7 linked regions of the Homo sapiens genome follow. The protein of the gene in region 2 purifies or fractionates together with the protein of the main gene of each other region. This does not show direct contact. Each region holds a gene or a part of one and is shown on either strand. Other genes may lie near its edges.

Region 1 (4,271 bases), on a different chromosome or scaffold from region 2:
AAGTTTATATAAGCACATAATAAAAAGTTGAATTCTTAAAATCGAAGATTTCACAAACAAAAAACAATTATTTATCTTTCTAAATTGAAATGTGATTTTATTTTACAGAAGGGCAAAAACATTCTTCAGTAAATGTCAACAATTTTTAAAGTTTAAATAGTTGCAAAGCTCTTTTAACTGACAACTTCTAAATCACTAAAAAGAAAAGTTTATAAAGTACTTACACATATTCCTCATATACTATTTACTCAATATGTTTTAAAATTCAGATTAAAAAGGGCTTACCTCAAGAATCAGTAAGTTCTTTGCCGTTTGTTAGATTCTTCTCTTGGCGAATCTGCCAGCATAACTTTAAGTCTCACCCCATTCAGAATCTTTCCATGTAGAGTGGCAATGGCATCATTAGCACTTATTCTATCGGCATACTTGGCATACCCCACATTTTTTCCTGACACAAGGTAAACTTCGATCAGGTTACCAAAACGACTGAAACAAAGTGAAAAAAATAATCAACCAAAATTGATAAATACAACTGCTCAGGTCTAAAATTTGGAGTCCATTCTTGACTCCATTTTCACCCTTCTCCCCAGATCCAACATCCAACTCATGTCAATCTTAAACATCTCAGTCAATTCTATTCATTCTCATTCAGATCTCTCTTCTCATTCAGACCATCATCTTTTCCTTAATCTAACTCCTTTTTCACTAGTTTCCTTACCCCTGAGCTTGTCCCTCTTCAATCCATTTTTCACTCTGTCTTCTGAGTGATCTTTCTAAAACATAAATATGATCATTTACTCCCTAAAAGTCCCCTCAGCAGCTCCCCATTGCCTCCATGGTGACAACAAATTCCTTAATATAGCTCTAGAGCCGTTCTGACATTGTCCTTGGACTCTTTAGTTTCATCTTCCTTAACAATCTCTCAAATTCCCTATTTAACAGCCCTTCTTTTACATTCTCTATGGCAGAAATAACCATGCATACCCCCAGCTTTCACCTGTGGAGAAATTATTTTTATACTTCAGGTCTCCACATACACCTTCCTTCTTTCAAGGCTTCTCAGAGTTTCTAAGGTAACTGCTCCTCCTTTGTATCTTACACATTCCTTATCACAGCAACAATCACCCTGGGTTGTAATTTTCTGTTTACTTGTCTGTTTCCTACATGAGATCAGCTCTAAGAGGACAAGAATCATAATGTCTTGTCCATTTAATATTTTGTTTACATGTCTCTTGTACTTAGCACAGTTCCTGCCTTGAACAAAGAGGAGGTTCAAGAAGAAAACTAAATATATCAGTTAAATAAAGGTCAAAATACTTGAACCATATCCTGATATTTTTTTCCTTTTGAGCCTCAATATACTATCACATTATGTCCCTGATATTTTGTGCAGCTCTTTAACAAGCTTCCTGTCTATCAAATTCACTAACATTCTTGTAAGGCAAATGGGAAAAAGGCCTAAAAGAAAAAGCAAAGAAAGGAGTTATGTTAAAAACACAAAAATAAATAAGAACCTTCCCTTTTTTATTATAAAAAACATTTATGTATTTTTCCCTACAATCAAGTAATTGTTTACACAATGCGACTGCATAACCCTTAAGGATCCTACAATGCACCAACAAAACAGAAGATGCTTAGCAAAAAAAACACAAAAAACAAAAAGGGTCTCACTCTGTCACCCAGGCTGGAGTACAGTAGCACAATCTTGGCTCACTGCAACCTCGACCTCCTGGGCAAAAGCAATCCTGCCACCTTAGCCTCCCAAGTATCTGCGACCACAGGCATGTACCACCATGCCTGGCTAATTCTTGTATTTTTTGTAGAGATGGGGTTTTGCCATATTGCCCAGTCTGGTCTTGAACTCCTGAGCTCAAGCGATCCCCTGACCTCGGCCTCCCAAAGTGTTGGGATTACAGGCATGAGCCACTGCACCAGGCCCACTTTATGTTTCAAAAACAAAATAGCAGGAAATTCTCTATGGAGCCTTAGGATGTGTGACTGATAAACAAGAGAAGAAAATAATCAGAAATTGAAAAAGATGATACAAATAAGGAGGTTTTAAAAGCAGAGAACTAATACTCTCTACTTGATAGGTACTGGGTGAAGGAAGTGTCTAGATTATAAGAATAATTAAATTACTAGTGTAAATAAAATATAACAAAAAATGTAACTTTCTTACCAGAATATATCTTCTAATACGTCTAAAGGTAAAGGATGAGGATTAAACACAATAAAAAGTCTTTCTTTCACAGGAGTTTCAGCAGGAGCTTTTTTTTTGCATGATGGAAGTACAACATCTGTCTGGATTTGAGGCAACTGTGATCCAGAGCTTCCTCCAAATTGCTGTTAACAGGTAGAAAACAAGAAAAAGAAAAAAATGCCCTTTAGGGATTTTTGGCCAAGAGCTAAAGACAGATATGTATCATGGCATCTATGTGGTCTTCCACAATAGCTCTGAAAATTTTCATACACAGATAATCAACAAAGCATGATTTCTCTTCACATTTATTTTATATGCTATTGATATATTATAAAGGTTAAATTCTTACCTACTTACCATAAATTGTTGCTGACTTGGGTTATTCCACACCATTGATGCAAGCTGTGCAGCTACCATCTGTGTTGCCATTTTTCTAAGGAGACTGGAAAAAATAACTGATAATTTACAGAAAACTAAAAATATTCAGTCTTTTAACAGTAGCTTGTTTTGTGTGACTTTCTCACCTGAGAGGTCAATTGTTTCTATTTTTATTCTTCAAGTCCTATCAATCATGTACACTCAAAGCTCGGCTTTAGACACTCCTGGAATGGTACTTACTCTGTTGCATTACTTCCATCATCAATGAAGGAAACACCTATTCGGTTCCCAGGAGGGTACTGAAATCCATGTAATTTGTATTTTGCATAAATAGCTGATGCTACATTAAAATACTGAACCACTCCATGACCTAAAATAGAGAACATACAGAAATGAAAAAGGAAAGCAGACTGAGTGCCTAAGGCCTATGTTACAATCTATCACAAAAATGAAACCATGTAGAACTCTAATATCACACAACTAGTAAATACAGAATCGAATGTATCAGAAAACACAGTTCTGTTATCATGTGTGCAACAGGTGTATTCCTAGAAAAGGAAGAAATAATTTAGGGAAAAATATGAACATGATATTTTAGGGAAAATGGAATATTAACATACGTCCTGTCTAATAAGTTTAGTTTTAGGATACTAGCTTTTCTTATATGATACCAATATACTTAAAAGTCTAAATTTTTATTCTTTGAAATCTACTTTGAAATTTTAAGATTTTCCCAACCATACTGGGTAGGAAATGAAATGAGAAGTGATAGTTGAAAAGAATATATACTCATCCCGGCTATCTGCAGCAGTAGGGAGAGGAAAAGTGATTTGAATGAAAAACAAAAAGATAGGGAACAGAGGATCTCAGATCACAAGTGATATATTTTACTTTCCTTTGGAGAGATTTCTGCCAAAGGGACGAATTTCAATTTAGGAGGGTGATGTTGAAGGGAGGGACAATGTTATAATGCATTCCTTAGAGAGCCCAGGAGTTTGTGACACAACTAAAAGGTTTTCACTTTTATAATACAAACCACTGGGGAAACACTTATAATTTATGTTCATCTGGAAACCCAAGCATCCAACATTTTAATGAAATTAAAATAAAACACAGAAATCAAATGACCATATAAAGTTAATTCAAATGAGATTCGAACTATATGATGACACCTCTATTAATAAAAAGATGTTCCAATGACACATATATTTCAGACACATCCAACCAGAGAAACAAAACAGGAGGTACAGGAACAAATACATTTTGACATACCAGATAAAAGGGAGGGAACAAAACAAAATGAACACAACTTCATATGCATATAACAAATGTGCCAGAGAACACAAAAATGTGTGCCTAGAAGTCTTAGAACAGAGAATGACGCATATGATCGGGTTAAGACTGGGGATGGCTCAAAGACAGTTCTACAAAAAGACTAGTGCTGGGTTGGGTACTAGTGAGTATGTGGGGGTGTCTGTATGAAGGGTGGAGTTACCTTAGTCCTGTTGGTCCACATGACCAAACTCACGTCACTACTTCTATGTCAATAGCCATGCCACTCTAAAAGGACTAAATCAGGTATCCTTACAAAACTGGAAGAGATGCCAACCAAGTATGATTTCTCTCTACCACCCCTCACTAACAAAGAAAAAAAAACCCCTTAGATTTACTGAGTGCCCTATTACATGCCAGA
Region 2 (4,271 bases):
TTCTTCCTCTTCCATTCTATTTCAGCAGCACTAAACTCTAAATTCTCAGGAAAAAAAAATTCTCCCTGGCAGATCATTGGCAATATAATTTCCTTGGACATAATTCCAAGTGGCCCTCCTCTAAGTACTCAAGCAAATTAGATTTGCCTAAATTCTCTGACACCAGTTTCTGCTGTTTTTCACATTACAGGTCATGCTAACTATTCCCTGCCATCAATAATCTTGATTCACGTTGCTTTTATTGAGTTTCACCGGTTCTGTATATATACACACAGCATAGCAAACGTCAAATTCTGTCCCAAGCCATTCATTAGCTAGATTAATATGGATAGCTTACACTTACCCATTAAGTATAATTTTCTTCAAAAGGCAATAAATAGAATCAATTCATTTACACTGGAAACACCTATTTCCAGATACTTCAATTAATCTGCAGTATGCTTTAGATACATAAGTATCAATACCATCTTTTTACAGACTGCAATGACTCGAAGGCTACTTTTTATATAACCTAAAATATAGGACATTTAATAATATCGGATGGTGATGATGATAAAACTAGCCAGTGGAACACGGCATGAATCAAATTAAAGATTGGGGAATTAAAGAAAAATACACAACTTTCCACGCATTATTTAAAACCAAAAATTATCTGTCTTTATGTATGTGATGGAGGCTCAATCCTACCATAACCATATGCAGATTCACAATACCATCTCAGGTCCCGTAAAGCGAAAATGTTTTATTTCATTCTTTTAGCATTTTGTTTCCTGCCTCTTCCCACTCCAACCCCCAATCTTGAACAAGATTTAAAAACATTCTTAAGATTGATTTCCCCTTCATCCCTTTGAAAGGTACTGATAAATCTCAAAAGATTCCAGTATTTGTTATCCTTCCAATCCTCAAGTGAATCATGACAAACTAGTTCTCACGGATGATGTAAAAAAGTCTAATGTATACATATATGTACATAAAAACAGGTAGTTTAACACCATTTCATATATACATGACTCCTATCATTCTGATGCTTAATACAGTCATTTAACAGGCAGTACTGATTTAAAAGCTCAAACAAAACTTCACTTCCTTCCAAATCTTTCTGAAATTCAAAAGTCTGTCTTTGTTACTTTCTAAAGTATATCTTTACAAAAACTTCTTAATATTTTAACACTAAGCAATAAAAATTAACAAACAGTAGCCACTGAAATCCACCAACAGCCTTTCAGCTATTAAGTATGCCAGAAAGTCTGAGGACACTAAAAAGAGGAATTAAAACAAAAATCTGCATTGAGGCCTAACTGGTTTCAGATACTACTGCTGGTTATTAAGATTTCCCATTATTACAAGTGGAGGTATAATCTGGTTTTAAGCAACTATTTTTCACAAATAGGTTTATCAATAGAAAATATAATCTCCATAGGTTTAATGAGAAGAAATTACCAGGGGTGAGGGGCTCCGTAAGCCAACACAGAATACTGACCATAAGGGAAAAAACCCATCAAACCACAGTCCAATGTTCCAAATGGACATTTGCAGAAAAATACAGATGTGATTGAAAGGGGTACCCTTTGGAATAAGACAGAAATGGATTTAAATGACCATTTTCTCAATTTTCACAAGTCTGAGTACATAGCTAGTATTATTTTCACAAGTCTGAGTACATAGCTAGTACTAATCAAGATGCAAGGAATTCATACCCCACGGCATTTTTCATGTGTATCAGGCCTTAATTCTCTCAAAGATCCACAAAGGAAAAACTCAGTAGAAAAGCATCCAGGCATACAAGGATGCTAGCAATGGTTGTTATGAGTTTAAGGATATGATTTCTCATTTTCTTTATGGTCTGGTTATTAAATTTGCTACAAAAATCATCAACTACTTATTTTTAAAATACAAAAATCCCAACTTCCAAAGTTTGCCTAAAATTAATAAAATACCCATACTTACTATGAGGACTTAAATTCAAGATGGAGGCAACAGTAAAGACAGACGTACTCACAATACGGATTAATTCCACTCTTAGTAACGTGTCCTCCTAAGGAATGAACAGTCACTACAAATTCATTCATTTTGGGGATCAAATATTTACTAACCATGTGCTGAGTACCACATTTCAGGGAAAATCCAGGGCACAAATAGTAACAAAGACTGTCCTGAGAGCTTCCTTAAATTCCAGTGGTATTGCTACTTCAAATTTTATGGAAGAGGTACATTTCCTGAAGTTTTAGAAATAACCAAATGATGTCAAGTCACACTTCATTCTACTTCAAAATTTTAAAGTATCATACAGGTGAAATTTCCATAAAGGGAGGACGATACTGTAACACAAAGAAACTACTGGAAAAGAACTGGGATTCTTGGAAGGGGTCAGCAAGAGCAGAGTAGTTTTTGAATCTCTGACTCCCAAAATAAGACTCAAGATGGCAAAATCACTATCCTACAGACAGCATTTAAATCAAAATTCCAAAATGCAAGGCAGTAAAGGCAAGCCAGCATATATGGTTTCACTGACTGTGGGAGAAATAAAAGGTAAGCAACTTGGAGAATAATAGACTTAGAAATACAAGAATACCAAAATAACCAGCAGTTATTTATTGAAAAGCAACAGGAACGAAATTTTAGAAAAGCAGTTAAAACTTAGAAGTTTCACCTGCTCCAATAGTGGGTGAGCACAAGGGACTTCAATAAAAATGTGTGAAGGTGCAAGAGCAGTTGCATCCCTGTAAAGTCTCATAAGTAAACAAACCCTATGTGGTTGATTCCACTGCCAATCCCCCTTCCTCTCACCAAAAGGTAACAACCATTATGACTTTACTAGCACTTTCTCACTTTTAAAATAATTCTAATGCCTAAATGTATAACTATAGACATTCTAGTCTTCCCAGAAAAATAAACGTGATGCATTTGAAGCATTTTTGTAGGTAAGTTCCGCTTCTATTGCATTAGGTTAAAATTTATCTGTTTAAGAATCCACAGTATTAACTTGTAGTTTCCCAGTCTGTATTTTCCAGGATTGATACTCTCAGAACAATTCCACATATTCTTCTGTAACTCTTGAAAGCAGCAGCTGGGACCAAGGCTTACTCAGCTTCATCTGCAATATTTTGTCAAGACTACCTCGTCCTACAAGTGGCAATACCTTTTTGTGGTGTTATTGATGCTTAAACAATACCATTTCTCTCTAGGTAGTATGGTGTGGTTTCTCGAGCACCACTTTTAACATGTTACGCAGACTGTTGTTAGAAATCCTAAGAACAGTCCCTCAGTTCTTTCATGTAACAGGTTGCCAGCATCCTTTTATAGTAGTACAATAGTTTAGATAAGTAAAACAAACTCCTTGATCACATTTTTTTTTTAATTTTTTTGAGTTGGAGTTTCACTCGTTGCCAAGGATGGAGTGCAATGGAGCAATCTTGGCTCACTGCAACCTACGCCTCCCTGTTCCAAGTGATTCTCCTGCCTCAGCCTCCCCAGTAGCTGGGATTACAGGCATGCGCCACCAGGCCCGGCTAATTTTGTATTTTTAGCAAAGACCAGGTTTCTCCATGTTGGTCAGGGTGATCTTGAACTTCTGACCTCAGGTGATCCGCCTGCCTCGGCCTCCCAAAGTGCTGGGATTACAGGTGAAAGCCACTGCACTCGGCCCTGATCCCATTTTCTTGCCTTGTTACTCCCTTTACATCTGGAAGGTGTAAAAACCACTTGTAGAATGAATAGGTCTACTTTTGCTTTTTGCCTCATACAGATCTAAATTACTTGGTCATATTCTATATGAATTTTTATAACCGAGTTCTAACAACTAACAACCCAATAGTAATAAATGTCCAGCAATAATAGTCTTTTAAAAATACAACTTCAAGTGATGTGCAAATTATAATTTGAGTCAAAAAAATAGTATCTGAAAACGTACAATACATAGGAGACATAAATGAACTACATAAAAATCATTTAAGAACGGACAGTACAGAAACACATCAAAATATCTTAAAATGTTCTGTGGGTACTCTGCTTGTGATTAATCTTTACAATCATTTTCACAGTTTCTCTGTATTTCCCAAATTCACTACAATGTACATACAAGCTTGGGATTTCTGTAGGAAAAACTCATTTAAGCCAAACAAATATTCCTTAAAACAGAAAATCCATTTGGTAGAAATTTTAAAAGGTTAATCACATTAGTAATAATAGTCCAAGTCTTAATGCACCTGTATATACTCAAATATTTTGAGGTCAATGCCCCTCATCATCATATTTCCCCTCTTCTAGTTGAA
Region 3 (4,271 bases), on a different chromosome or scaffold from region 2:
AAAGGTTCAGCACCTCCCACACCTTTAAGGAAGAAAAATGAAAATGACACTAGTTTTGAAATGTAAGAGAATTAAAGTACTGTTAAAAATGAAAAGAAATTGGCAAACATCAGGAAGTACAATACTAAAAGCCCCAGTTTATGATAACAAAAGTTTTCCCAGGGTATGCCAGTAAGTAAAATACGCAAGGAGAGTGTGTGTACTTATCTCTGTGGGGGGAAAGGAAGAAAATGAGGGAAGAAATATATGTCTATATTTGTATAAAGAAACATACAGGAAAGATACAGGAGAAACTAGTAAAAATGTGATCTATGGGGGAGGCGGTGGGGAGAATAGGAGGGATGGGATGGGGGCTGTCCGAGGGGAAGATTGTACCTTGTAAAATAATGCAGAGTTCTGACCATGTGAAGGTATGACCAACTCAAAAAGGTTTTTTTGTTTTTTTTTGGGACGGAGTCTTGCTCTGTCGCCCAGGCTGGAGTGCAGTGGCGCTATGTCGGCTCACTGCAACCTCCGCCTCCCAGGTTTTAAGCAGTTCTCTGCCTCGGCCTCCCAAGTAGCTGGGATTACAGGTGCCTGCCACCACACCTGGCTAATTTTTGTATTTTTAGTAGAGACAGGGTTTCACCATCTTGGCCAGGCTGGTCTTAAACACCTGACACCTCATGATCCACCTGCCTTGGCCACCCAAAGTGCTGGGATTACAGGTGTGAGCCGCTGTTCCCAGCCTCAAAATGTCTTTTAAAAGTAGAGCTTTCTGCCCAGAGAATCTGGAAAACTTTCAGGCAAAAGGGCCAGAAAGTAACTCAGGCAAATATTTCCCCGCTGAGTCAGCAGATAGTGTAAACTCAACACAAACGAGGGGCAGCCTCCCCATCATCAGCGCCTTCCCCTTCATCAGTGCACTCACACAGACATTGGTCCGTTTCCTGTTCTTGGCATCTCTGTACTTTGTTGGTCCAACTCAGACAGCAACTTTAAGATGTTCAGCGCAGCCTAGTGGGGATGGAAAGAAGGGTAAAGCCACAGCCACCGCTTGGGACCACAGCATAATACACTGGTCAGGCAGGCAAGAGAGTTCCTGCTGCCCAGCAAACAGGTGGCAACTTCTTCAACTCTGGTACTACTAAATAAAACTTTGAATTTTTAATTTAAAATACAAATTAAAAAATATTCAGTTACCTCACTGAATCATAACCTCTGAAAATGTTATATTTTTCCTTCTAGTATTTTTAACCATGTGGTAACCAGACTGTATAAATGTTATATCCTGCTTTCTAACAAAAATCTATCATGTATTTTTCTTTCTATAGAGACAGGGTCTCACTAAGTTGCCCAGGCTGGTCTCAAACTCCTAGGCTCAAGCGATCCTTCCACCTTGGCCTCCCAAAGTGCTGGAATTACAGGTGTGAGCCTCCACACCCGGCCTATCATGTATTTTTCTTCTTATTACATTATCTTCGGAGACACTGTTTTGTTTTGAAACGCAGTCTCACCCAGCTGCCCAGGCTGGAGTGCAGTAGTGCAATCTTGGCTCACTGCAACCTCCACCTCCCGGGTTCAAGCGATTCTCCTGCCTTGGCCTCCCAAGTAGCTGGGATTACAGGCACCCACCACCACACCTGGCTAATTTTTTTTTGTATTTTTAGTAGAGATGGGGTTTCACCACGTTGGCCAGGCTGGTCTTGAACTCCTGAGCTCAGGTGATCCGCCTGCCTCAGCCTCCCGCAGTGCTGGGATTAGTGTGAGCCACCACACCCCACCCAGAGACATTAATTTCATGCATGCATGACATCCCATCAAGTGAATACATCACAGTTTACTTAGATTTGTTGATCTGATCAATTCCTTTTCTCAGTTTTCTTATAACAATAATTTCATCTGAACAGAAGACCAAAGCAAGTGGTTTTTACAGCTGCCAGAACGTGGACCTGCAATTCCTTGTTCTGGTGAGAGATGAAGTGAGTGCAGTCTCTGGGTGAGCTGCAGGATCCCAGTTGCCCCTCCAGGCCAGCAGGGAAAAGGAAGGGAAAGGTGGGCTAAAGCTGATGAGTTCTGATCAAGAGTGAGAAATCGATCCAATCAGCTATGACAAAAAGTCTTCAAAAATATGAACACTATCAAACGATTCATTGCTCTCAAGGTCTATGGGACAATCTTTCTCCCATCTTCCTCAGGCTAGTAACAAGCTGAACCAAGGCAGGCTCCACATAAACACACAACACCCCAATCCCTCACCCAAGGTGTGACGTACCATATCATGGCAGGACTCCACATCCTTGCCGATACCATGGCTGATCAGAGGTGGCTGAGAGGAGCAATTGATAAGAGATACAAATTCGTTCTTGTTGTTTTTGGGGAAGTCTTTGTATTCAACCTAAGGGGGAAAAGAGAGCTGAGGCTAGGTAGGGAACAGCAAGTATGAGTGGGCTGGAGGGCTGCAGCTCCAGGCCCCACAAGCAAGATCACCAGCTCTTTTTTCCAACTCAGCCCCACTGTGGCCATACTAACACCTGCCCTGTCAGCCCAGAACCTTCCAGGAACCTAGGTGTCTGCTCAGAAGCCCAAGACTGGGAGAAGCCATATCCTTTCCTACCAGACAGAAAGTGTCAGCACGATGAGTCTGTTCTTTGAAATCCAAATTTACAACCACTGCTAGTGGTTAGAAGCTTTTAGGGTTGGCTTGCATGTTGAAATCTTACTACCAAAGGATAAAGATATTTCTCTTACCACATATGCTTACAATACTTCTATACCTCCTACCCTTCCATCACTGCTCCCCAGCCCATCCCTGGACAGAACTTGATTTAAGAAAAAAGTACAAAGTTCAAAGTTCATTTTCTGAGAGAAGCCAAAAGATGACTGTCCTGAGGCACAGCCATCACAGCTCAGGCCAGACAGTTACCTGGAATCCCTGGACTCTGGAAAGATAGTCCAGTTGCTCAGAGGGTCTCGTGAGAGGTCCATGGGGTACGTGGCCTGAAGAGATGTTATTCTTTAAAATGGTCTCGGCTGTGGGCGAGGTGCCCCCATACAACAACTCTCGGGCTATCATGGCAGTTACCGTGGCCTTGGCAGGATTCGGAGCTGCCCTGGTAAAATCTTTGGTGTGATGTCCTTGACTAACTCCTACAGCCTGGGCGACCTCGGGCACCATGGGAAGAATTCCAGCAGGCAGCTGCTGATGACTTAGATAAGGCATCCTGAACTCATCCTCTTTATTACCTGGGAGGGACATACACGGTAAACACGAATCCACATCCACAGCCTGGAAAAACGCAATGACACCATCAAACCCCACGCTGGCCCTCCCCTTGGCACGCATGGCAGCGCAGGGAATCAGGGAATGATAAAGACACTTTGCATGCGGGACCTCACTGGCTGGGCTCCTGCTGTTATTCAGGACCCATGCAAATCCCAGAATCACGTTCAGAGGAAGACGATATTAAGATCACACTTACTAGTCCCATTTTCATCCCCAGAGCCAGGTTCAAAAAAGGTTACTTTTCTTCCATCCCCTGGTTTCTTTATGGGTGTCTTAAAAAAGAAGAAGAAAAAAAAAAGGCCATGAGCATAAATCAGATCACTGAAAAATTAGCTCCTGCTGTCTAAATCTACACAAAGTCCAGTCAGCAATAACTGTGGCAATCGGCAGAAAAACCCTGCCCCACCTGACCACTGGCACCCTGACAGACACCTGGGCAGAGCCTGCCTCCTTCTCCTAATGCACCCTCCTGCCCACACCCCTGCCCACAAAGAGCATCTAACAAAGTGCACTAACCTGTGAATGCTGAGCTGCACTCTGCACCCACAGGAAGACGGGAAGCATTTAACCAGAAAGAGCAGAGATGCTAGACGGTAGAGCCCACCAAGGTGGGGAAAGAAGCTTTCAGACTGAAGCTAAACAAATAAATCAAGAATATTTCCTGGAGCTGATATCCAATTAAAAAATAAGGTGACATTCCAAAATTAACACCCTTACGGGGAAAATGTTATTACCTAAGAATTTTGTCTAACACAACATCACCTTTCTAAGAAGTAACAAAGGACACTCTGAATGTCCTACAAGATTCTGAAATGAAAAACCCTAAAGCCAAGTCTAAGATCTATACTGGTGGTATCTGGGGTCCCAGTCAGTTATTAACTGGCCATGACTGATGCTGTTTCTGTCAATATGACTGGCAGACATGAATGAATCAGGCCTGATTTCAAGTTTATCTCACCAGGACCATTCAGTGATGGGAAAGAAGAAGGTCAGCCATGGCTTTTGC
Region 4 (4,271 bases), on a different chromosome or scaffold from region 2:
CCCAGGAGGCAGAGATTGAGTGCGGTAAGCTGAGATTGAGCCACTGCACTCCAGCCTGGGCAACAAGAGCAAAATTCCGTCTCAATAAATCAATCCCTGTTAAAGGTAAAATCTTCAAAATAAAAACCAGTTCCTAAAAACACCAAGACTTCCTCCCCAACCCCCAGTCTTTCTGTTTAGATGTCAGACATGGGGTGTGTGTGTTTTGGGTCGGGGGAAACGTTAACAGCCATTTGAAGTTGTGGCCCAGAATTTAAGTCAGCCCCAGGGTGACTCTGGAAGAGAGTCTAGGGATATGCAACACTGACAATGGTGGGATAGAGGGGCTTCCATATTCCAATTTCAAAGGATTCCAACAAAGACCAAAGTCTAAGGTCATAAAAATGACATATTCCTTAATAGAATCAAAATACATCATTACACAGCAATGAAAATGCTAAACAGCAAAGCCTGAGTTTATTCTACACATCAAAGCTTTCATGCAGGTTTTTTTTTTTTTTTTTTTTCTGGAGACGGACTCTCGCTCTGTTGCCAGGCTGAAGTGCAGTCATGTGATCTCAGCTCACTGCAACCTCCGCCTCCCGGGTTCAAGCAATTCTCCTGCCTCAGCCTCTTGAGTAACTGGGATTACAGGCGTGCGCCACCACGCCCGGCTAATTGTTTTATTTTTAGTAGAGATGGGGTTTCACCATGTTGGCCAGGATGGTCTCAAACTCCTGACCTTGTGATCCGCCCACCTCGGCCTCCCAAAGTGCTGGGATTACAGGCGTGAGCCACCGTGCCTGGCCTCTCCACCTTTTTTGCATCTATCAATGCCCCTAGCTCTCTAGCAGCAGCTGTGCAAACACCAGGAGGGCCCAAAGGGGTCTTGGTAAGACACTTTTCAGGGCACTGCGGCAGTGCTATGGTCCCGTGGTCAGGAGACCTGCAGCCTGTCAGTAACTGACAGTGTGACCTTGAGCAAGATCAACTCTCTGGCTTGCCTCCTCTTATCAAATGGCACAACTATTTCAGCTTAGAAGGTTGTTGTCAGGTTACAATGAAAAAGCATAATGACTTTTTAAAAAATGACTCAACTTGATAAAAATACAAAATACTGCCTTTATTCAAAATGAGGCAGAGATGAATAAGGAGGGAATTTTGTCCCAGTTAAATATTTATTCCATTTAAACTACTCAAAGTCCAGTTGTCCCAATAATTAATAATTTTCACTTCCCCAAACCACCAAGCAAGGTGCACTGTCATTCTCACCTGCGGGACCTATGTTTCCCATTCCGATGCCTTTATTCAGGTGATTGGCATCAATGGGTTGCCCTCCTGGTCCTAACCCCATGCCAATACCACCAAGGCCATCTGGAAAGAAAAGAGAAAGAAGCTTAGTTTTCCCCTATTTAGCAAACCTTGACCCTCAAAGGAAAAGAGTGTTTAGTGAGTTGCAGCTATCCACTTCAGCCTACCCACCCCCACCCACCAGTGACCTCAGGGCCCAATGCAAAATTCAACATCGGCACACTTGGAAACAGAGCCTTGTTCCGGCGTTTGGGATATGTGTGTATACAACAAAGGCGGCTGAAAACCAACACGGGAAAGTTAACAACCCCCACACTAAGATTCTTGAGAGCCTATTTGTTTCACTAACCCATGGACTGAGAACTGTCTGATCAAAAAAGGTGACTCAAGACATCAGGTGGCAAGCAGCACAAATGTGCCCAATCCCTAGTAGCCCAAAGGATGTTTCTCATGAAAAAACACGTTACAAACCAGCCAATCAACATCCTGGGTGTCCACTACTCTCTGAATCTGGGTGGTTTTAGTAACAATGAAGCTAATGTATGTATTCAAAGAACCTATCTTCCTTCCCCCAAAGCTTCCCAACCCACAACTGGATACCCAGCCCACACTCAACTCCATGCCCTACCAACACAGACAGGGACACAGAAATACAGGCTGGTCTCTGGAAACAGCCAAAAGAGCTGACACTTGCAATATCTGGGGTAACCACCATCTGAGGCTTAAACTACAACCAGGTAAGCTTTTAAAAATCGTAACAAGGGCAGGCGCAGTGGCTCACGCCTGAAATCCCAGCACTTTGGGAGGCCAAGGCGGGTGGATCACGTGAGGTCAGGAGTTCGAGACCATCCTGGCCAACATGGCAAAACCCCATCTCTACTAAAAAAAAAAAAAAATTAGCCTGGCATGGTGGCACATGCCTGTAATCGCTGCTACTTGGAAGGCTGACAGGAGAATCACTAGAACCCAGGAAATGGAGGTTGCAGCAAGCCAAGACCGCACCACTGCACTCCAGCCTGGGCGACAGAGCGAGACTCCATCAAAAAGAAAGAAAAAGGAAGAAAGGAAGGAAAGAAAGCAAACAAAGTTCATTTAAAAAGTAAATAAAACCTGCCACCACTTCCCAGGCGTTTCATCTGATGAACATTCCATCTTTAATTGCATAGCAACAGCAGCAAGAGATCGCCACGGTGACTTACTCTCCCAAAGCACTGAAGGCTTTGAAGTCAAGCCTCCGAAATGGCCGGGAGACCAAGAGCCATGGATAACAGGCTCCCTGGAGCAGTGTGCTCCTCCTCCTGCTCCAGCACAAGAGTCAACAAGAGCCATCGCCATGGTCCAGGGTGACCACTGCTCAGGTGAGCACACTGACAATTTATTTGGGAAATGAGTATGTTATGTCCAGGAAATGCAATCCTTCTCTAACTAATGTTGCCTTTCAACAGATGAGCCTTCTCATGAAGCCACAGATTTCCCTTCAAGATACATCTGTCATGCTGCCATAATGCTACGCTGCAAAGGTGCTCTGGCCTGGGCTCCCATCCAACTCAGTGAGTAGGGCCCTGAGCTTGAGCTGCTGCTCCAGACCAGGCCCCCTCAACCCGCCTGGTGGAGGTCACCCCAGCACAGCACACACAGGCCTCTCACCCTCATCCATCTTTCTTCTCCAGGAGAGCTTTACCTGCGCCAGTGATTCCCTGAGTCGTCCCACCGCTGTATGCACTGAGGTTCTTGCTTCCAGCCTCTGGCTTATCTATGACTCTGCACTAATATTTGCCACTTCTACCTATGTGGTAGCCCATCAACTAGCCTTCCCTGTCACGAGACAGATTTTCACCTGGGTGTCACAAATAGCTGATCCCTTTCCCCTCTGCATACAAATTATTTGTTCAAGACACTTCACATACCATAAAACTCAAAGTATTCGGTGGTTTTTAGTATATTCAGAGATATGCAACTATCACTACCATTTAATTCCAGAACATTTTCATCACCCAAAAAAGAAATCCAACCTTATTAGCAGTCCCGTCCCTACTTACTCCTTCCCGGCCTCAGGCAACCACTAATCTACTTTCTGCCTTTATGCATTTATCTATGCGGAGCATTTCCTGTAGATGAAATCGAGGTTCATCCACACTGCAGCATGTGTCTTTCATCCTGCTGCAAACATCTGCGTGCGAATTTCTGTGCAGATGTCTAGTGTGCACTGCTAGCCCACATGGGACTAACCAGTATCTTCTGAATTAGAGTGCAGCCTGGTTTTCATTCCCTTCACAGGTTCTGATTCTTCCTTCCCCAGGACACTTTCAAAATGCCTAACCACATCCTCTACATCCTGGTATTACAATCCTAGGATTACCATGAGGTAATCCTAACAATATCCTCAAGTTGTGAATCTCTGCTCATTTCTCACCCTGAAAAATCTATAGAAAAGAACTGGCCAAGAGAACTGAGGGCTAACCTGGCACAGGTTCAAGTGAAACCATATGGTAATTTTCTGTTTATTAGTGTAACTCCAATTCAAACTCTCAGCCCTAATCACTGAAACACTTACGGGGAAGTTGTTGTGGACGCTCAGGAGGGAAGAAATCTCCTTTTGGTAAGGCCCTCTCATCCTGAAAGAGAAAGAAAACAAACAAATCTCAGTATCCAGTGCAGCAGTGTTTGCAACAGCAAAAGACTGAAATGGCCCCCCATCAAGAGAGGACCAGCTAAACACATTATCCACGCCATGGAGTAATACGCAAGGGTAGAAAGGCATGCGGAGCATGCTTCCTATTTTATGTCAAGGGAAAAGACACATGGATATTATTGTGGGGGATGATGGGGACCTGGGCAAGAAGTCCAAGTAGGACTCACACTATCTTCACACTACCTTTTCATGCCTTTTGACTTTTGAGTCACGTGAATCTATCATCTATTCAAAAAACTTACCTACTCTATTTAGAGTAATGAAAAAATTGCTTTATAGTTTATCTTTT
Region 5 (4,271 bases), on a different chromosome or scaffold from region 2:
TAACTCCAGGAGGCATTATTTATGTTAAATTTTGTGTGAGTAGTGCCCATGGAGCTATGCAATCAGCAGCCCTGTCCATTTCTGTGGACAAGCTGGAAAGCTGCCAACAACATGTTAAACACTAGTAGTTAGAATACTCATGTACCGCTACTCCCATTCTTTTAACTTGAGTTGTTTACTGATCCTCAGTTGCTTGTTCCGAAACCTGTTAGTACCAGTAGTATTCATTAGTCTAATAATGTATTATGTAAATGACAAAATAAGGGTGCAAAACCAAGTCGAATGCTTTGGAAAGACTTGATCAGAAAAAAAAGCTGTCATATCAGCTATAAAGAGGAAAGCTTCAAAAGATGGGAAAAAGGAGCATAAAACATTAGGATTTCTCACTTGCTTCACATGTTTCTAAGCTCTAATCTCAAGTCTTCAATTAACAATTTCAGTTCTGCATATGATGCAGCACAACGGTATAGTTTATCCTAAATAATGGGAACGACAGTCAGTATACGTATATTCAAAGAAAAGTCCTGAGCACTATATCAAAAAATTGGTGGAAAAAAGGACCACGTTTTACAATTCCTGCTTTAACTAGCTTTTATTAACTGAATTACTGATAACTGCTTTATTTAAAAACCATATCATTCGAATAATCTCTATGTTTTTTAAATCTACCATTCTAAAATCATTACCAAGCATCTGTCTTTTTGATTGCTCAACAATTCAAGTTGAATGAAGGTGTGCTAAAAATTAACCTCAAACACCTGTCTATTAAGACCCTTGCTGTTTGTATCTCTTACCACTTTGTTTAAAGCCTTAACACACTCACCTAAGTCCTTTTGTGGTATAACATAAAGCTTAAAAAATTAAAATAATAGTGTTAAGTATGGAACCTGATGCTGCTGCTAAACACTTTGGCTAGTCTAATACAATCCAATTTTCGACTTCCATTGATTCAATTATTTGGTCGGCATATGGACAAGAAAGCAAGAGCCTGTAACTGTGCAGGGAATCGGTATTAATAATGAAAATCTGCAGTTGGATATATGGTTACACAGTAGCAAGTTACATATAACTTCAATCTTCAGATCTGAACAGCCAAAGGAATTATTGTTACAAAGTTCATAATCACTTACTTGCCTATGGAACACTTGGCTTGAAAATGATGTATGGTGATTCTCATAAAACACAGCACCTGGCTATTCTAAGCTTGGAATGTTAAATCTATTGAATGACTGAAATGATCTTCAGATACCACATGAACTGAAGCTGAATAAAACGAATCTATTACTATCCACATAGGATCTGAGGGGGGGTATTATAAAGGTTACAGGGTAAGACACTCTGTACGTCAACTTCCCAACCCATTAATTACCATGATAACCTGACTGAATGTCCACTGACTATAATTTTGAAAGGATAATGCCACAAAAAGTATAATACGCATGCAGCATGAGAGCTGAGATGTATTTATTCCTGGAGATATCTGCCTGTGTAAAGTTGTAGACATGTGTGGCACAGAGGTTCAGGGACCTTGATTCTTAAGTATAGATCAAACCTAAGTCACAGGACCTATCAAGGTTCCACCACCCAAAGTGCCAAATTTCACACAAAGGTCTTTCATTTCCAGGATTCACTTATTGAAAAAAAGCATAATTGATGTAATATTTACGCAAGCTGCCAGCTAGGACATTCAAATAGCCTTCTTCTACAGCAGTAGTTCTCAACAGGGTGTAGATTTTGCCCCCAGTGGTCATCTGGCAAACCTTGGAGACATTTTTAGTAGTCAAAACTAGGGGAAGCAACTGGCATCTAGTGGGTAGGGGCCAGGCATGCTGCTAAATATCTCACGTTGCATAGGGCATCTCCCAAAACAAATAACTGGCCAAGAATGTCAATAGTGCTGATGTTAAGAAACCGTATTCTAGAAAGCAGAGCTCCTCAGAACCAAATTTCAGTGAGGTTGGGAGAATGCAGATGCTGAAAAACTAGCTGAATGAGAGCAGTTATTTTTTGTTGCTGTTTTTTAAACCTTAAGCACACTGTTCCCTTCTTTCTGGCTCATCTATTTTGCCAACCCTTTATTCCACCTCTACAGTCTTCCTAACTTAACTTTCCAGCTGGCTTGTTCCAGTTTGGAATCATACCACAGCCTTTAAAGCAACCCTCCTAGGCCCTCTTATAAGCTTGAAAAGGGGAAAATAGTGCTGTGGGAAGAGAAGGTATGATTTCTGAGAAACAACTAGAAAATACATGTACATAGTCACATCTCTGAACTGCAAACCCTTTGTTCATTTTGGCTATATTAAAGGACAATATTTGTCTGGAGAATGGGAGGAGGCAGAAAGTATTAAGAGGTAAGAAATGTTCCACTTTCACCTGATAGTTGAGAGACTATAAAGGGGTGAAGACTACAGACAAAATCTGAACTTACGAACAGAAACATGATATTGAACTCATAAGACAACCTGGGTAAGGGAACAGGGAAATGAAATAAAACAATACGAATACAATTTGGGGAATTCGCTCAATGTACCCTGAAGAAAACGTATCTATGGTAGTTCCCAAGGCAAGAACAGATTTTTTATTAAAATTTAACTATGTAAAAGTTTTAAAATGTAAATTAAAGATAACATTACCACTTCACTCAGACAGACTTGGCTAGTATAGAGAAGCAGGTATAAAATCCATCTGAAAGGATCTTAATAAACCAAATAAATTTCCCCTCTATAAGTCAATCCTAATTTTATACGGGTACACTGTACATCTTATAGCCTTACAAGAAATTTTAGACCCACAAAATGGAAAACAAAAACCAACCCTGTAAAATAGAAAAGTAAAGTAACTAAAACCAACAACTTCAACATTACGTTTTTAAACCTTAAGCACACTGTTCCCTTCTTTTTGGCTCATCTATTTTGATATTGAACAACTTGAAAGATAACATGCCTTGAGCCCGCAGACTTAAAACAGGCAACCATCACTTCTGAAATAAACTATACTCTCTCAAAATAACAAATCCTTTCACTTCTATTTTTTTCTTTAGTTAAGTAAAAAAATCAGCCACAGTCCAAAAGACAAGGACCTAATTCTAAGAAGCTTAAATGGGGCTAATACAGCAAATCTGAAATTTTTGTAAATTGCCCAAATTCCCAAAATTGTATTCGTATTGTTTCTAGCTAAGATTTTGAACAATCTAAATACTTTCTTAAAAGAACAAACAATGGACTGCATATCCCATAGTAACTAAAAAGCTTCAGAGACATTTTTAAAGCAAGTCTAAGCAATTAGTTAAGATTTAGCACTGGACTAGTATCCATACACATTACTTTCCATTTAGCATTTCCTTTTCCTTGTTTATAAATGGACTACTACATGAACTTCATTGGTATAGCCTCCTAATCCTACCCCCCTTAATCTTTGATAGTCGAGTCTCAACACAGAAGTATAATTTTATAATCTCCCTATAAGATGCAACCCTCTGCTATCTCTCTAATCTTATCTCCTACAACTTCCCCCTCACTCACTCTGCTCCAGCACCACTGGCCTCCTTGCTCTTCTGTTAACATGACAGGAACCCTATAGTCTTCAGGCTTTTGTGCCCATGGTTACCTTTGGATCACAGCTTTTCCCCATACAGCTATATGGCTGCTACCTTACCTCCGGCAAGTCTTTGTTCAAATGCCATTCACACCGAAGCCTTCTCTAATCAACTTACATAAAATAGTAACTTCTCCCTCACAGAAATCTCTCCCCTCTTTACCTGGTATCACTCCATAGCGCCTGTCACTATATGATACACTATACTTTACTTGACTGTCTTCTCTCTACTCTAGAGGGGAGGCTCTATCTTTATATTGTCCACTGCTGTATGGCAAGTAATTAGGACAGAGCTTGGCACTGTTAAGTATTTGTTGAATAAATGATTTTATATATATATATATATATATATATATATATATATATGTATTACTTTCCATATGCTTGCTTCTATATATACAGTATATAATTATATGTAAAATATATATTAGAGTATATATTTATATAAAACTTATAATAAACAAACTTATATAATATATAAATATAAATTTATAATATATAAATATAAATTTATATAATATATAAATATATATAATACATTCTATTATAGTTTATATATATACACACACTCTATATATAGAGAGTCAAGCATACGGAAAGTCAGGGCAGTGACTGACAGCAGCTGACAATTGTCCAGAAATGCTCAGATGCATCTATTTAATTCTGACTGTAATAAT
Region 6 (4,271 bases), on a different chromosome or scaffold from region 2:
GCAAATTGGCCGCACGGGCACGGTGATCACAAGACCTTATGTGTGTGATTATTTGTTTACAAAAACAGAATGGATTTTAAAACAAACTATGAGACAGGAAAGCTTAGAGTCAGTCATCCTTCAAAGAATGCTAAAGGCCCACATCACTAACTCAACAGCAGACAAGAACCTCTGAATGACTTCACCCAGTTCTCACTAGTATAAGAAGACAACTCTAATTGCCAAAGTCCTATTTCCCAAATGGAACCTCATTTTAACACGCTTTCTTCCAAAGTGCAAAATACTAAAAACTGTATGGAAATTTCTTATTTGTATATATTTCTCTAGGAAGAGACAGCTACAGCTTTCTTCAAATGCTTAAAGAGATTCTAGCCCCTCAATATTAACAAGAACTTCCAATTTTACAATGACTCTAAAGAAATGCAGGAAAGCTAAGAATCTCAAAACAACTATCATTCCCTAGTCCCATAAAGAGATGAAATTAGTCAAGAAAGTGTGTACTAAAAGCTTTCAGTAAAAAAAAAAAAAAAAAAAAAAAAAAAAAGGGGATAAAAATCCATCTTGAAGGAATAGTTTATTGCTTTGATATTTATAAAAGATTTTTGTGATATCCTATTAACATAGTCTTTAAAGTTGCTGAAATAATCTCCAATAATGAACAACCCACAAAAACAAAATGCTGGAAGAAAAGAACATTTAGAATATAAATTTCCCTTTCATGATAAACTTTTTAAGTCAAAGGAAAAACCCAAGGATTAAATCTATCACTACAGATGGTCCCCAATTTATGATGGTTCAAACTTACGATTTTTCAACTGTATGGTGATATAAAAGTAACACACGTTTAGGAGAAACTATATTTTGAATTTTGATCCTTTCCCGGGCTAGCAGTCTATGGTAAGAGACTCTCTCGATATAGGGCAATGGTAGCAAGCCACAGCTCCCACTCAGGCAATGGATCATGAGAGTGAAAAATGGATACTCTGTGTTGCCAGATGATTTTGCCCAACTATAACATAAATGTTCTGAGCATGTTTAAGGTAGGCTAGACTAAGCTCTGATATTCAGTAGGTTAGGCGTATTAAATACATTTTTAACTTAATGCCATTTTCAACTTGCAATGGGTTTATCAGGAGCATCTGTATTAGATTGGCCAACGGAAAAATATACAGGTACATCAAACTGTAGATAACATACCTGGTTCAAAATATACCAGTGCTAAAGCAAAACCTTCACTGTGTCTTAAAAAAAAAAACCTATCATTTTACTGTTACTGTCTTACAGTAAGTATAATTTTAAATTTGTCAAGTTTTTTAAAATACATTTTTAAAAGTGGGAAAGGGGATTTTGCATGTCAGACCTTATCTCCTATTCATTTTCAGTCAGAAACTGATGTAATAGATATCAGTAATATAAATATATACTAAGAAACTGCAAGTTTATTTAAAAAAAAGACACTGTAAGGCATTCTATAAACTGGTTTAGTTTTATCCCCATTCCACCTATTCTTATGACTTTCTGGGTTATTTTACCTATTTTACTCCTCAAAGCCCCCATCCTTCTCTTCATAAAGATTTCTTACAACGAAAACCTGTATCTGTTGTCACACAGAACTATTCAGCAATATTCAAAAAGGTACCATGTCATTAAGCATATCAATTCAGTTCACGCATTGAGAGCCTAACTCAAAGCTCTGAGAAAAGAATGCTCGTTGCAAAAATAGTTATTTTTATTAAGACCAATCTCTAGAAACTTAACATTGATATTAAAGATGAAGATGTCTATGAGAATGCATTTAGCACAGCGTTGCTCACACAAGAGTTACCTTTTGTTTTGTTTTGCACAATGGAATACAAGCTTAGAGATAAAAAAAATTCTTCCCTTGAAATAAAAAATTCTTCTAGCCTTACTAAAATGAAACATATGATACACATCACACAAGCTGAAAGCCAAATCTGTTAAATTTACTAGTGAAAAATGTCCTAAGTACCCCACAAAAATCTAAGATTTTATTACGCAAACTTTGACTTTTAATTCAGACTCCAAAAGTTATCATTTAAATCATAATAAAACACTTATCTTTTAATATGTAAAAGCCTTAAAATAAGCACTGCCTTTCAAGCTTAAGTGTCTTCTGTTTCCACTTGGCAAATTTACGTTATGTGAAATCCTTAAATAATTAACTAGCACTATAAACCGTCTAGTATCTCGAACCAAATAAATATACAATAAATGTTCTTCCCAAATTAGAACATACAAAAGTGTGGATTTGGCACTGAACTACAATATGTGGGCTCTGTGCGTAACCAGAACCGGTGAAGACTTCTACACCTGTAAAATGAAAATGGCCAAAGCAAGAAAAAATTTTATGCATTTTATGTCCTCCATAGTGAATTTGATAGTCAGGTGTGGCATCACTAGACATAAAGCCTTCAAACAGTTCTATAATATATCAACAAAGCAGCAATACTGACAGCTAAATACTAACAAGTGGGAAGGCAACTAACCAGGAAAAGCTACGTAATCTGTGGGTCCCAGTGCAAGATGAAAATGCAGGGTAACCTTGTCCAAAAATTCTTAAGAATTTCAAGATTGGGTAGGATGTGCAACCATACCGGTTACAAGCTGGAAAAGCAGTCCTGCCCATAACTAAGTACTCACGCCAAAAATAAAATTAACCTCCCCCCACACACACTCAAATGTGGTAGCTTACTATCATTTTTGACCTGTCCAGCTGAGTAGCCAAGAAACAAAGAGCTGGGGGTAGACTGAGATGGGCAGGTTTTCCACAGGGTGGCACACCATCTAGCCCCCTTAAAATGTCAACAAAAAAGTAACCAAACCAAGCTAAGTACCACAGATTCTAGCCTCTCTCAATTCCAAATAAACATTATGAGTGATAAAAGTGGCAATAAGAATGTGACGATGTGATAGATTTAATAAGACATCAAATGGGAGCGAAAATACTGATGCTACCATGCAGACAAGTCATCAAAAAGGGGAATGGTAAAGTCAGTCTTGATAAGAAGCTTAAGAAGCTATTTCAGAGTATCTAGTCCTTTGGGGAAAAAGAACATGAAGGCTAATTTGCCACTGTGGTGCTCTTGTGCAATGCCAATAATGCCTGAAAAGCGTCACAGGTTTTTTAAAAAAATGTCTTTCAGCAAAGAAAGAGGAAAAGGTTGATCCCAGCTTAAAAGTCAGGATATTCTGGAAGGCTTTGCTGTGTCCTTAAAGAGAACCTAAGACTTGCTTCTAGAATAGAAGTGGGGTGGCAGGAGGGGAGGCACATTATTTTTAAAAGATAAGCAGGGAAGGCTGGAAGAGCCAAGAGCGGTTGGTTACAAGGATTCAGCTAGCAGCATCTGTCTGTGTATAAATAATCAAAAGGTTGATTCAAGGAATGATGGTATATGACACTCACAGCATCATTCTCCCTTAACCTACCAGGAGCTGAGTCTTAACTAAAACCACTGAAACTGGGACAGAAAGGCTTTGTTTTTCTCTTGTGAAGAGGCGGTAACCAGAACAAATCAACCAAAAAAACTAAATCAGAGAGGATCTATAAAAACACATCTTAGGCCTAGAAAAGAAAAAAGGTTCCATAGTAACCTTTTGACACTGAGTGTCAAAAGAGTGGTAGACACTGACCAGCAGTGGGTACTTGCTCTAAACAAGAAGCATATCCTATAACTAAAATTATCTTGAACCACAGGGAAAGTGTGTGAGCACTGAATATAGCTGACTTGATTGTTCCTGAAAGAAGACACTACACAATGAAGGAAACACCTACAGATAAGGAAGAGGGAGGGGCTTAACACCTAAAGTTGTCTTTCAAAGGAAGAAAAAAACAACTAACTCCCTGAAAGGTGGCAGCACAAAGTTACCCAAATAACAGGCAACAAGGGGCTGGTTTTAACCACACAAAAATAAAAATACTCTCTCAAAAAGGAAAATTACAAAGGAGGAATCACAGAAAATTTAATGTAACATGTTTCTTCATATTCTAATTTTTCCTACCCCATTCTGGCCTTTATCTTCCAGATGTTTTCTTCCTCTTCTTTCTCTCCCCATAGTTTGCAAGCGAACTTCCCGTAAGTATATCCTCCCCACAACCTTAAGTGTTGTTACCTTAGCATCCCTACAAACCTCCTATAAAGAAGGCCCCTACCACAAATGCAGTAACATTCGGGTCCACTCAGCAATACAGTCACCATTTATATATACCCAAAGGTTACTAAGACAAGGTAGATGCAGGACAGCTTTTCCAC
Region 7 (4,271 bases), on a different chromosome or scaffold from region 2:
GGCGGGTGGATCACCTGAGGTCAGGAGTTCGAGAGCAGCCTGGCCAACATGGGGAAACCTCGCCTCTACTAAAAATACAAAAATTAGCCGGGCGTGGTGGTCCGTGCCTATAGTCCCAGTTACCCAGGAAGCTGTGGCAGGAGAATCGCTTGAACCCAGGAGGTGGAGGTTGCAGTGAGCCAAGTTCACACCTCTGCACTCCACTCCAGCCTGGGGGACGGAGTAAGACTCTGTCTCAAAAAAAAAAAAAAAAAAGATTCTGTGATAACAGAAAGGTGTCATGATGGAAGCACATTTAGTGAGGAGGGCCGGAGATCTGTACACATCTACTTTACCAAGTATGGTGCAGGTGACTCATTTTTTAATCACAGATCATAGCATATAGTAGGCATTCAGTATTTGTTGAAAGAATGAATGTCTTAACATCTAGTTATTGGAAAATTACAAGCCTAAACTACTCTTTTTTTTGTTTTTTTGAGACAGAGTCTCACTGTGACACCCAGGCTGGAGTGCAATGGTGCAATCTCGGCTCACTGCAACCTCCACTTCCCAGGTTCAAGTGATTCTCCTGCCTCAGCCTCCTGAGTAGCTGGGACTACAGGCACATGCCACCATGCCCAGCTAATGTTTGTATTTTTAGTAGAGACAGGGGTTCACCGTATTGGCCAGGCTGGTCTCGAACTCCTGACCTCAAGTGATCCACCTGCCTCAGGCTCTCAAAGTGCTGGGATTACAGGCATGAGCCACCGTGCCCGGTCCTAAACTACTTTTGATACAAATATACATCATTACAGATTGTAGAATTAGCCAAACAACCAACAACCAAACTAAACTGAAAATAATGAAACTAAACTAACAGTAATTTATAATTAAAAAGCAAGAATAGGCCGGGCATGGTAGCTCACACCTGTTATCCCAGCACTTTGGGAGGCCAAGGTGGGTAGATCATTTGAGGTCAGGAGTTCGAGACCAGCCTGACCAAATGGTGAAATCCCGTCTCTACTAAAAATACAAAAAAATTAGCCAGGCGTGGTGGCACATGCTTGTAGTCCCAGCTACTCAGGAGGCCGAGTCAGAAGAATTGATTGAACCTGGGAGGTGGAGGTTGCAGTGAGCAGAGATGGCACCACTGCATTCCAGCCTGGGTGACAGAGCGAGATTCCATCTCAAAAGAAAAAAAAAAAAGCAAGAACAGCAACAATTGAAAACCAGAACCAAGTCACAAGCACAGTGGGTTTTGTAATTTAGCACAAAAATAAGCCTTCATAGAATATGGAGTTCTACTAGGCCTTTAATTTTAGTTTATGACAAGAAACCAAATGAACCCTTAACTCATTTAGCAGGTTGTTAGTAAAGAGTACTTCATTTAGGCCAGGCATGGTGGCTCACACCTGTAATCCCAGCACTTTGGGAAGCCAAGGCAGGCAGGATCGCTTAAGCCCAGTTCAAGACCAGCCAGGGCAACATAGCGAGACCCCATCTCCACACACACACACACACACACACACACACACACACACACACACACCAAAATATTAGTCAGGCATGTTGGTGCATGCTTGTAGTTCCAGCTATTCAGGGGGCTGAGATGAGCGAATCACTTGAGCCCAGGAAGTTGAGGCTGCAGCAAGCCATGATTGCACCACTGCACTCCAGCCTGGGCGACAGAGTGAGACCCTGTATCCACACATACACACACACACGAGTCCTTCATTTATATAAAACTTTATAAAACTTGAGAGTCCAAGGAACTAGAGTGCTAGTTACCTTTTTGTTTGTTTGTTTGACACAGAGCCTCGCCATGTCTCCTAGGCTGGAGTGCAGTGGCTCGATCTTGGCTCACTGCAATCCACCTCCCGGGTTCAAGCAATTATTGTGTCTCAGTCTCCCGAGTAGCTAGGATTACAGACAGGTGCCCGCCACCATGCCCGGCTAATTTTTATATTTTTTGTAGAGACAGGGTTTCACCATGTTGGCCAGGCTTGTCTGGAACTCATGACCTCAAGTGATCTGCCCACTTTGGCCTCCCAACGTGCTGGATTACAGGTATGAGCCACTGCTCCCTGCCTAGAGTGCTAGTTACTTTTAAGAGGGACAAGAAAGACTTGCATTTGAGGATCCTACTGTGGGCTTTCAGGAGGCAAGAGGCTCCTTGTGAACCACCAGTAACTGGAGACTAAGCATCACTGGTAGGTAGGGCAGTGGTGACCTTCCAAGAACCTGGCTTAAATTAAGGCTGTCTTTTGAGACTTACAAAATAAAATCAACACATAAAGAACGGAGAAAGGATCTGTAAAGTCATCTGAAAGGGATGGACTGGCTGGCTCCCTGGTTTTTAAGACTTGATCATGATCTGACTGAACAGGGAGTTACCAGAGCAGACTTTCACACTGTTCATCTAAGCCCAGCCTTGAGCTAACCACCCATACTGAATTTTGTCACCCTAAAAAACTAACTTCAACTTCCAGCTTTATTACTTTTAAAGGGAGGAGCAATAGATAACAAACACCTTCAACCACAGCGATGACACTCTGACCCAATCACAGAATCTTGCTATTTTATGTTGAAATGTCTCCACTAAAATATCCTGTTTCACTGCCAGGTGCCATGGCTCACGCCTGTAATCCCAGCACTTTGGGAGGCCAAGGCGGGCAGATCATCTGAGGATGGGAGTTCAAGACCAGCCTGACGAATATGGTAAAACCCCGTCTCTACTAAAAATACAAAAATTAGCCGGGCTGTGGACAGAGGGAGACCAGGCCTCAAAAAAAAAAAAAAAAAATCTTGTTTCACCACGGGACAGGTTGTCTCAATTATCAGGATCAGTATCTGAGCAACCTAGGCATGATTGTGTATTCATCGTTAAACTGTAGCTCAAGTGCCACCGTAATTTATACATATGTTTGTGTGTACATATGTGTGTGTGTGTGTATGTTTTCCTCACTAAACTGCAATCCTCTGGTGGCATGGATGGTGACATATTTCTCTCCATGCTTCTGGAGCTGAAGGAAGGGAAATGTGTCAAGTATATTCGCAGAGTGGAAATGGATACATCAAGCTACTGTTGCCTACCAGCACTGGCCGTTTACTCTCACTGATCTTCCTGCAAGCTCCTGTGTGCATTGCCTATATGGAAGGAATGAACAAACAGTAACCATGAAGAGCCAGTCCATATGACTTACGGTTCTCTAAAGTAATAAAGTGGGTTCTGGTTTCCACATCAGTCACTTCATGAGTTTGGTTGGTGAGAGTCAAATCCCTGGGGACCAACGACCTCTATGAAGAATGGTCTTAAAAGTCAAAATGGATATAAGCTGCTCTTCAAACTACATAGCACAGAATATAAATGAGATGAGGCCGGGCGCTGTGGCTCACGCCTGTAATCCCAGCACTTTGGGAAGCTGAGGCAGGTGGATCACCTGAGGTCAGGAGTTCGAGACCAGCCTGACCAACATGGTGAAACCCTGTCTCTACTGAAAATACAAAATTAGCCAGGTGTGGCAGTGCATGCCTGTAATCTCAGCTACTCAGAAGACTGAGGCAGGAGAATCGCTTGAACCCAGGAGGCGGAGGTTGCAGTGAGCCGAGATCACACTATTGCACTCCAGCCTGGGCGACAAGAGTGAAACTCCGTCTAAAAAAAAAAAAAAGTCAATGAGATGAGATATATGTGAAACTGTTGATCCTGTTATTGACAATAATGACTGGATAGATTATTATGACATAAATTGAGGATGGTAAATACCTCATTCTTTGGTACTGACCTGCAAATCCCCGGCTCCTCCCTTGAGGGGGAAGTGGCATGGAGCCCATAGCTCGGGAATAAAGTGAAACAGGGTAGAGAGAGGGCACCATGGGAGGCACAAAAGTAGGTGACGGAAGTAGAGCAGAAGGCGGTGGATGATTCATGTTGACTCCTTCAAGGATGCTCTGTCTCATCTTTTCCACTTTGGTTGCCAGGTCAGCCTTCAAATGAGGAAGAGTAATAATAGCAGCTGCCATTTTTCGAACTTGTCCCATGTTTTAGGCCCAGGATGGAGCACTCTAGGTACAGTCTCACAATTCTATTCCCATTAAGTGAACTGAGGCCTGTCGTTAAAGGGCTCAAAGCTACACACTCAGGAAGCCTGTCTGGCACCAAAGCCCCGACTCTTTACATGACATCACACTACCATCATATGAGTTCTGACTCAGGGCTTGTGATGTACATTGACTAGGTCAAGGAAGACAAATTTAACAATAAGAATTACTGATGGTCTATTACATGGCCG

The links.
Region 1: the proteins of HNRNPC (region 2) and RBM45 purify together in Homo sapiens (affinity purification with mass spectrometry; 2 studies listed by BioGRID and IntAct, with this or other methods). This does not show direct contact.
Region 3: the proteins of HNRNPC (region 2) and STAU1 purify together in Homo sapiens (affinity purification with mass spectrometry; 2 studies listed by BioGRID and IntAct, with this or other methods). This does not show direct contact.
Region 4: the proteins of HNRNPC (region 2) and HNRNPM fractionate together in Homo sapiens (co-fractionation; 2 studies listed by BioGRID). This does not show direct contact.
Region 5: the proteins of HNRNPC (region 2) and NCBP1 purify together in Homo sapiens (co-immunoprecipitation; 3 studies listed by BioGRID and IntAct, with this or other methods). This does not show direct contact.
Region 6: the proteins of HNRNPC (region 2) and ELAVL2 purify together in Homo sapiens (affinity purification with mass spectrometry; 2 studies listed by BioGRID and IntAct, with this or other methods). This does not show direct contact.
Region 7: the proteins of HNRNPC (region 2) and FAM120C purify together in Homo sapiens (co-immunoprecipitation; 2 studies listed by BioGRID and IntAct, with this or other methods). This does not show direct contact.

What each region holds. Positions count from the first base shown.
Region 1 is NC_000002.12:178,122,199-178,126,469, reverse strand, and holds part of RBM45 (RNA-binding protein 45), read right to left. Parts: intron 2,949-4,271; coding exon 2,819-2,948; intron 2,643-2,818; coding exon 2,558-2,642; intron 2,344-2,557; coding exon 2,180-2,343; intron 487-2,179; coding exon 294-486; 3' UTR 286-293; intron 1-285. UniProt on the Homo sapiens protein: RNA-binding protein with binding specificity for poly(C). May play an important role in neural development.
Region 2 is NC_000014.9:21,234,426-21,238,696, forward strand, and holds part of HNRNPC (heterogeneous nuclear ribonucleoproteins C1/C2), read right to left. Parts: intron 2,036-4,271; exon of another isoform or gene 1,948-2,035; intron 1-1,947. UniProt on the Homo sapiens protein: Binds pre-mRNA and nucleates the assembly of 40S hnRNP particles. Interacts with poly-U tracts in the 3'-UTR or 5'-UTR of mRNA and modulates the stability and the level of translation of bound mRNA molecules. Single HNRNPC tetramers bind 230-240 nucleotides.
Region 3 is NC_000020.11:49,114,872-49,119,142, forward strand, and holds part of STAU1 (double-stranded RNA-binding protein Staufen homolog 1), read right to left. Parts: intron 3,538-4,271; coding exon 3,462-3,537; intron 3,226-3,461; coding exon 2,906-3,225; intron 2,378-2,905; coding exon 2,255-2,377; intron 997-2,254; coding exon 911-996; intron 23-910; coding exon 7-22; 3' UTR 1-6. UniProt on the Homo sapiens protein: Binds double-stranded RNA (regardless of the sequence) and tubulin.
Region 4 is NC_000019.10:8,468,408-8,472,678, reverse strand, and holds part of HNRNPM (heterogeneous nuclear ribonucleoprotein M), read right to left. Parts: intron 3,906-4,271; coding exon 3,845-3,905; intron 1,354-3,844; coding exon 1,252-1,353; intron 1-1,251. UniProt on the Homo sapiens protein: Pre-mRNA binding protein in vivo, binds avidly to poly(G) and poly(U) RNA homopolymers in vitro. Involved in splicing.
Region 5 is NC_000009.12:97,636,327-97,640,597, reverse strand, and holds part of NCBP1 (nuclear cap-binding protein subunit 1), read right to left. Parts: intron 1-4,271. UniProt on the Homo sapiens protein: Component of the cap-binding complex (CBC), which binds cotranscriptionally to the 5'-cap of pre-mRNAs and is involved in various processes such as pre-mRNA splicing, translation regulation, nonsense-mediated mRNA decay, RNA-mediated gene silencing (RNAi) by microRNAs (miRNAs) and mRNA export.
Region 6 is NC_000009.12:23,815,803-23,820,073, forward strand, and holds part of ELAVL2 (ELAV-like protein 2), read right to left. Parts: intron 1-4,271.
Region 7 is NC_000023.11:54,081,951-54,086,221, forward strand, and holds part of FAM120C (constitutive coactivator of PPAR-gamma-like protein 2), read right to left. Parts: intron 3,967-4,271; coding exon 3,765-3,966; intron 3,127-3,764; coding exon of another isoform or gene 3,092-3,126; exon of another isoform or gene 3,073-3,091; intron 1-3,072.